Homo sapiens: one gene and its partner. The protein of the gene in region 2 interacts with the protein of the main gene of each other region in a pairwise test. Each region holds a gene or a part of one and is shown on either strand. Other genes may lie near its edges.

Region 1 (3,927 bases), on a different chromosome or scaffold from region 2:
TTTTTTTTAAATAAGGGGCAAGTTTCCAAAGATCAGTGTGGAGTGCTACAGAAATAATTATAGGAGAGGAAATCATAATCACAGAAGGTATAATGCTTGTTTGAGGCTCCGGAATAAGAACTAAAAAAAAAACAAAAAACACTGGTTTCATGCTTACGGGGTACACACTTTGGTGCATCCCGTGAACACAAATTTTAATACCAAACAATCCTTGATGCTTCACCTGGGGCTGCCAAGCAGTTTGTAAAACAGAGGAAAACATTTAGTGCAGTCTGTATTATCCTTTTCCAACTTTTCTGTTTGTGCAAGTTTTTGAAGATTCATTGGCCAAACAATGAACAACAAAGGTTTTCTGAGAGAAGACAAGGTGGACTTTTCATTTTGTTAGTAAATACCAGTGGCACTGTTGAACGAAACAAATACTTTTATCTCAGTCTTTCAAATCAGTATTAATGTCTGTGTTTCCTTCCACTGACAGCTCTTCTTCTAGTTTCACTGAAAAAAGGGTGTTAGTATTTTTATCTTGGACACTCTCTTCCAAATCCTTCAGCAGCTCCTCTTCTTTATATTCTGCCACATCGACCTCTAAACCGGAATTGTCCTTCAGTTTGCCGTGGTGCTTGAGATAGTACCGCTGGTTCTGAAAGAACTTGATGATGGTGTACTTGGGAAGGTCGAGCTGGGCAGACAGAGTCTGGATGGCCTCTTCGTCAGGGTACAGGCCCACGTCTTGTATGAAACTCTGGAGGATTCCCAAGGCTTCCACTGAAATTTTTGTTCGTGGCCGGGTCTTCTGTCGGTTTTCCTCATCTGACTCTGCTGGAGAGGCCACCGTGGGTTGCCGTGGGGGGAGCCGAGGGCCTGTCTGTGGCTGCTGCTGTGGCTGTGGAGGCGGCGGTGCCTGCTGCTGCTGCTGCTGCTGTTGCTGTTGCTGCTGCTGTTGCTGCAAAGAAACAAGGAGACAATCAGAGCTCTGCTATCGTGGAGTTCCACACAAAGCCGTCTCCAATCAGGAAAAATGTGGTCCCGGATCCTACATATAGCTTCTTTGATAGGGATGAAGATTTAGAAAGAAAAGGTAGGCCGGCGAAATGGCCGACAGCATTTACAAAAAAATCAAAATGATATGACTAGGAAGGGATGAATTAAGACAGCTTTGGGGGGCTACTGCACTTACTTATCAGAGATCAGCAGAGGAAGTGAAAACTCAGTGCTCTGAAAATGTGAGCCATAAAATTCACTAGAATGATACGCATCAAAGGCGAAGACAGCACATCAAATTATGATGTAAATAATTAACAAAGATTTAAAATGAAGATGGAGAGGAAAGGATTTCAAAGACATTTCAGAAAGGTGAGCTACAGAGCAGCGGGGAAAGAAATTTGTGTTCTGCTCCGTTTCATTGGATGGCCAGGAAGAACAGAAGATGAGCTTATGCTCTTATTCAGTGTTATCTGTCATGAGACTAAAGGATTTCTGATATTCTCACACTTGTGAATTTTCTATCAGACAGTTCCAATTTAATACACACACAATTTCTTACCGAATTGCACTAGGCTGACACTGCAAGTTTTTTTCTTACCTCAAAAGGTTCAATCCACCATACGACAGCTAGCGAATTGTTTTGTCTATAGCAAACTCAGATGTGGTTAGGATTTAAATTTAGTGTATACAGACACTTTTTCATAATTAGTATATGTATATGTGCTACAATTTCCATACACAATTATACATAAATATGTGACACATGCACATACTGTACACTCGATATCCATAATTCTTATCAGCAAAGTAAATCAACCTAAGTGGCAAAATATTAGAATGCTGATACCGTGTCTATGCATTTCCTTTTATACCCCTAAGAAGCAATTTTATTAAAAACAATTTATATTTTCGAATAAGTACTTTTTAAATTAATTAACATATATCGTTCTCTTTTTTGTTTTTGCTAAACAGTAAGTTTTTCAGGCTTTCACGATTATTTTAGTGCTTGATATCCTAAAGGGAAGCTCTTTGTCAACTTGTTTTATCTTTAATACACACTTGAGAATTTTTTTATCCTGGTAGATAAATAACTTTATTACTGTTTTTAGTTATACGTATCTATCTATACACACACGCACACACATATATATAATTTTTCACAGAAATACAAAAAAATTGCAGAATGTAGGTGACTCAACAGAGGTAGAATTTTAGGACTCTGGAAGGCAGTGGCATTTTACTTTAAAAGAGAGCTAAAATCATCCCCTTTAACAAAAATAAGCTATACAACTCAAGTTCAATGACAACACGCTTTCTAAGCAACTGGGGCCCTAAGAGCGCTAATGACTACCTGATCCCAGAACTTTTCCATCTAAATTCACAGAAGAGTGTCTTCAGGAGATGAATGGTGACAAGTCCCATGACATGACAAACAAAGCATAAGGCTGCATCTGCTGGCACAGTGAGCTCTGCCCAAGACCATGGTTAGTAGGGCCTTTACAGGTTTGAAAATCCTGACCTGGGGAGCAGGTCTTTAGGTCACCCCCTCTCTGTGTCCCTTGGTGGCATAGGTAACTGTGCCCGCTCACCTGAGGAGCAGCACCGAGCCATGGTGCAGGGGTCGGCAGGCCTGGTAAGAAAACGCCTCTAGACTCTCCTTTCCCAAGGGTGGTGGGAGAGGGGCTCTAAAGGAAAGACAAACAGAGATGACTCACCCCTAACCTACATTCTGTAAAGTGTGGGGAGACAGCTATTACATACAAGGTGAAGGAAGGGCCAAGGACTGTAAGGCAAGATTCCAATTAAGCTTCCCTCCCCTCCTCTTTCTGGACAGAATCCAATGTATAAAATTGTGATTCTACAAACTTCCTTTACAGCAACAGCGGTTGCTCTTTTCCTCAGGGGCACTGTGGTATTAATTAAAAAATAGGTGGTGTTTTAAATTGTGATTTTTAAAAAACACACAAAAATTTTAAGCTCTTAACACAAAACCCAATACCAACAAAGACACATTTGCCAAACGAGTGTAAAAAAGGGGTTCCTGTTGCTTTGGTGGCTGGGAGATGAGGAAAGAGGAACACGATACATACGCTGGAAAAAGTATGTTAATATTCATTTTATCCCCCTGAGCAAGATGGCAGTGTATTGTTATCTCTTGCTAAAAAGCCTATGGTTAGACTGGCAGGAGGAAGAGAAACGCTAATTTCCCTGCTAAGTTTAAAGCTTTATTTACTTATTGCTATACTGAATTGGCCAAAGTAAACGAACCTGAATCTGCTCTGCTGGAACATGGATAATGTGGGGCGGCCTGTCGCCATGGTGATGCACCGCGTTGCTCTCCTGTTCATAAATGGCATCACGTTCTGGCTGAGGAAGACTGAGGAACCTTCGGATCATGGAGAGGTTCTCCCACAGGGTTCTGTTTTCTGGAGAAGGATCTTCTTTCCAGCGTAACAGCTCGCACAACCATCCCTTAGAGACAAGGGCATAATAGGTCAGTTTGTGCCTATGAGAGGGGCTGGCATTTTCCATTAGGAGCTAAAAAGGAAAAACCCTATGAATTAACTTTTTCATAAGCTCAGAACACACCATTCTGCTTTAAAAATTGTTTTTAACTTGTTAAGAGAGGTTATCTGTGGCTGTCAAGGAGGCAGACTCTGTTTCTAATCAAAGTTCAGATTTGCATCTCAAAGGAGGGACATATTTTTTCAGACTCTGAGGGTAACAGAGCATTTATCACAGATTTTTTAATATATGAAATAGGAGAAAAACAAAGTTGATGTGCTTCAGTCTTGCACAACTTTGCTATCTGACGAGTGGCTGGCCATCTGAGGATACGGAAGTGCCTAAGAGGCAGGACAGATTTTAGAAATAATTTTTTTCTAAAAGGATTTCCTAAGCTTGTACTTTTTGGATTTGAAAGAAAACTGTGTGTGAATATTT
Region 2 (3,778 bases):
GATTGTGAGGAGATTTGGAAGTTAGGTTAAAGTAGGAAGTGAAATTTTCTAATGCTGAGGCCCTATCTTGCCTGTTTTTTTCCACTAATATGGGTCTGGAACAGATCCCTAATATCCTAAAAAGCATTTTCTTGGAAGCTACTTACCTATCTCTGACACATTCCCCTAAACCATGGCTGGATGCTGTGGGTGTGACTGATATTCAGAGGCAAAACAAAAAAAGACAATAAAGCAAAAAAGTCATAAAGTTAAAAAGAGTAATCATGTTTTCCCCTGGCATTTTTTAATGTTCAGAATTTATAATGTCAAATTGTATCAGAATAAAAACACGAAAACATGAGATAAGTGTGTGGGGAAGCAATTTGGAACCTGAAGACAGTTTTTAATGGAATGCATTTGACAAGCAGCCTCCATCTTTACATTTGAGTATGGTCTGGTTTATGAATCCCAAATCCCTAAGAAAATAATTTTAAACAAATTGTGGGACATGTGTATACAAATTTATGACTTGGCTCTGGCATGGAAGAATGGTCTCTCCGAAAGAATAAAATCCTATTGGTTATAAATGGGTCAAAAAGAATTAGATTTTTTTATTTATACTTCAGAAATGTAATCAAGTGAATGAAATGGTTTCATATACATTTTTACATCCAACAGCAGTGACACACTGTTCATACATTAATTCTATAGTAAAATGTACATCCTTCTTTTTTGCTAAGTAAGATATGCCAAGTGTTCATGGACAAAAAAACCTTTCGTTGCAACCTGAACTAGTGAAATAACAAGGGTAAGCCATGTTCCTTTCAATAGCTTTATAGACTTAATAAAGCTATTGTCCAAATGTGTGTTAATACTGGCATGTGTAAGATGAAGTCTCAAAATTCTCAAAAATGTAAATGTCCAACTTGAAAACTTTACAAAATATCATATTGGATTTTGCGACTGAATCTGCCCAGGGACATTAAAGTCCAGGATGGTTTATGTAAGTGTACTTCTGTAGCTCTATTCCTAGCTGACTATTCTTCGATTCCCTAATCACAAAGAAATGCATTCTTATGAAGTTAAGCAGCTGTAGACACAGAATGCTGATGACATTTTCTCCATATCTGAGTTATCTAAAGAAAACCCAGTTAGTGGTAATTCTACCAAATACTTGTAACATTCACATAAAATTTTAATTGATTTTCAAATAGTACAACTGTGCCACGAATCCAACCACATAGAATATAAGCCTTAAGCCCACTAGGTTTAAGCAATTGTGTCTTTGTAGACTAAAACTATGTAAAATAAAATCTGATAACTCCCTGGTGTTAGAGGTAGACAGTTTTCTTTCAAATCCTAGGTTTGGTCCTTTATTTTATTCAGCAGTGAAAGCCATGAATACAGAACGAATAACAGCTGTTACAATTCTCAACCATGACTTCTAACGTCAGAGAATTCAAAGTATGAACATAGTACACAGTAATGAAAAGTATCAAAAATTAGTTTACCTCAAAAAAGATAAATAAAACAGGTATATTCCACCAATACATAAACAGATGTTTGTGCTACAGTTTAAAATTTGCTGTATACAAAAGATCATAGTCCCCATAATCAGCTTATGATAGAAGCAAGAATACATGAGCCATTTAAATTGTCAGACATTATGCTTTATAAGGTATGCACAGAAGTTCAAGCAATAAATACATACATTAGTTCAAAGCCTTACAATAGCTACGCAAAGCAGATGCAGAAAAGCAGATTTGCTATTACTAGCAAGCAATGATATAAGAGTAAAAATTCATGAAATGCATTAAAGCAACATTTTTCTTAGAAAAAGTCTGGTCATTTATGGGTCCACCAACATTTTTACATAATATGCACAATTATCAAAATACAGACCAAGCATTTCAGGAAACTCCAAAAAACCTAAAATCTATTTTCAAAGCAATTGCAGTTTTGGAGGTTTTTCTGGTATAATGTGCAAGCAGCTATTTTTTAAAATTGTATTCATATAAAACCCATGCAAAACTCTACAGGTATATGCATTCTGTGGCTGAGACTTCCTTTCAAAAGTTTTCTAACTGAGGTATGCATACTTTAGCATTGTAGTCTTAGGCCACCCTTCTGATGGTACAACTCTCGCAGTTACTTCCAGTCCCTCAAAGCCTTTTGAACATGCACCTGAAAGACCCATTTTTCCTTTCAGATAATCCTTACAGTAGGATCCTAGATGACTGAAAACCATCTTTCACCATACCCATCTTTCTTTTAATACCATATTGTAAACTTCCGGTTCGTTGATCATGACCCAAAGACAAACATAATGAAAAGTAGCAGTTACTGTGACGTTCTCACGTTTCATGCAATCTGCCATAATTGTTCTAATGTTTTTCTTTTTTTTTTTTTCTTTTTTTTTTTTTGCAGAGGTAGAAGCTTTCAGAAAGCCTTTTGGGTAAGTGGGAAAACCCTTTTGAAAGCCGTTATGTCCTTTTATTTGGTGTGATAGATGACTGGGTATCTCTCTAACTCTATTTGCTGACTTCAGCAAAGAATCAATGATGAGCTTAGTTTGCAAGAACCGGTTCCATCACATGGAACGGGAACGTATGTTAAGCTCTAGCAGCCACCTTCTGTCAAAACTGTTTGTAAAGCAATAACCATAATCAGGTTATGAGGTCCCTTGGTTGGGGGAAAAAGTATTATCAAGACTTGGCACAGCACATGAAAAGCAACATGTTAAGTTTCTAGGTTTTAAGCAAACATCTGACTATGCTATTTTCAACTACATCATAACTCATTATCATAGTTTTGGGGTTTGGAATTGTCAAGAAAACCAGCATTCCAACAATTTGGCCTGTGCAAGTCTTTGAAGGGAGTGTATTGTTAGTGTTAATATCCCGTATAAGCAGAGGCAGAATTATATGTAACTTTGGTTTGACTGAAAATAAATACCATGGACTACAATTGCTATAATCTTTGCTTTCAGTGTAAAAACTCAGCTAGATCACTTTAAAATCAATATGAAATTAATTTTTGGCTTTACTAGACCTTTTATGTTTGGTTCCTACTTTTTGTTTTTTCATTATAACTTAAGACTATAAAAAAATAGTACACAACAAAGATTAAGACCATACAAGACATCTTCTAACAACATGTATTCACCACTGAAAATAACTGACTGAATGAGGGAAAACAAAAACACAAAGTACTATATATATAACAATATGCAATCTGCATTTGCATCAAGTACATAATCGTTTTGGTCAGTGATCCACATTTGTTGCTTTCTAGCATATCATAACTTCCACTGCGGATTTTGTCCTCACCTCTGTCTTTAATGAAAGCAAATCTTCATTGCATTTAGATGGACTTTTGGCCTCAGAAGATTACTCTGTGACTGAATTAACATTTTTTAGTTGTGGTTTTTGTCATATTTGTTTCTTTGTTTAGGGCTAAATGAAAAGATCCCAGAGGTCATCAGAAAACAGCAGGTAGTTCATGGAAAAGGTTCCTTTGTACTAATTGAAGTTACAGAAGGCTGACCAAAGCATGTGGCTGCTTCTGTCCTTGAGCTCTTGGCCATGGTTAGAGTTGGCTTTGGTTTGCAGCTGTAGCCTTTGACTGTGTTTGCAGGTAGACAAAGCTTTATCACAAGGAGGTAAAGAGTACAGTTGTAAGATCTATGCAGATATGCAAATGTTTCTATGGTGCTTGCACAGATAATGTTAGCTTAGGATTGCACTTTACATCTTAACACTAACAGCACAGACTGGAAGCCTAAGGTTTTAGATGGTTG

The links.
Region 1: the proteins of FOXP2 (region 2) and SATB1 come close enough for resonance energy transfer, tested with the Homo sapiens proteins (one study listed by BioGRID).

The regions. Positions count from the first base shown.
Region 1 is NC_000003.12:18,348,740-18,352,666, forward strand, and holds part of SATB1 (DNA-binding protein SATB1), read right to left. Parts: intron 3,457-3,927; coding exon 3,253-3,456; intron 2,670-3,252; coding exon of another isoform or gene 2,574-2,669; intron 944-2,573; coding exon 431-943; 3' UTR 1-430. UniProt on the Homo sapiens protein: Crucial silencing factor contributing to the initiation of X inactivation mediated by Xist RNA that occurs during embryogenesis and in lymphoma.
Region 2 is NC_000007.14:114,690,554-114,694,331, reverse strand, and holds the end of FOXP2 (forkhead box protein P2), read right to left. Parts: 3' UTR 567-3,778; downstream 1-566. UniProt on the Homo sapiens protein: Transcriptional repressor that may play a role in the specification and differentiation of lung epithelium. May also play a role in developing neural, gastrointestinal and cardiovascular tissues.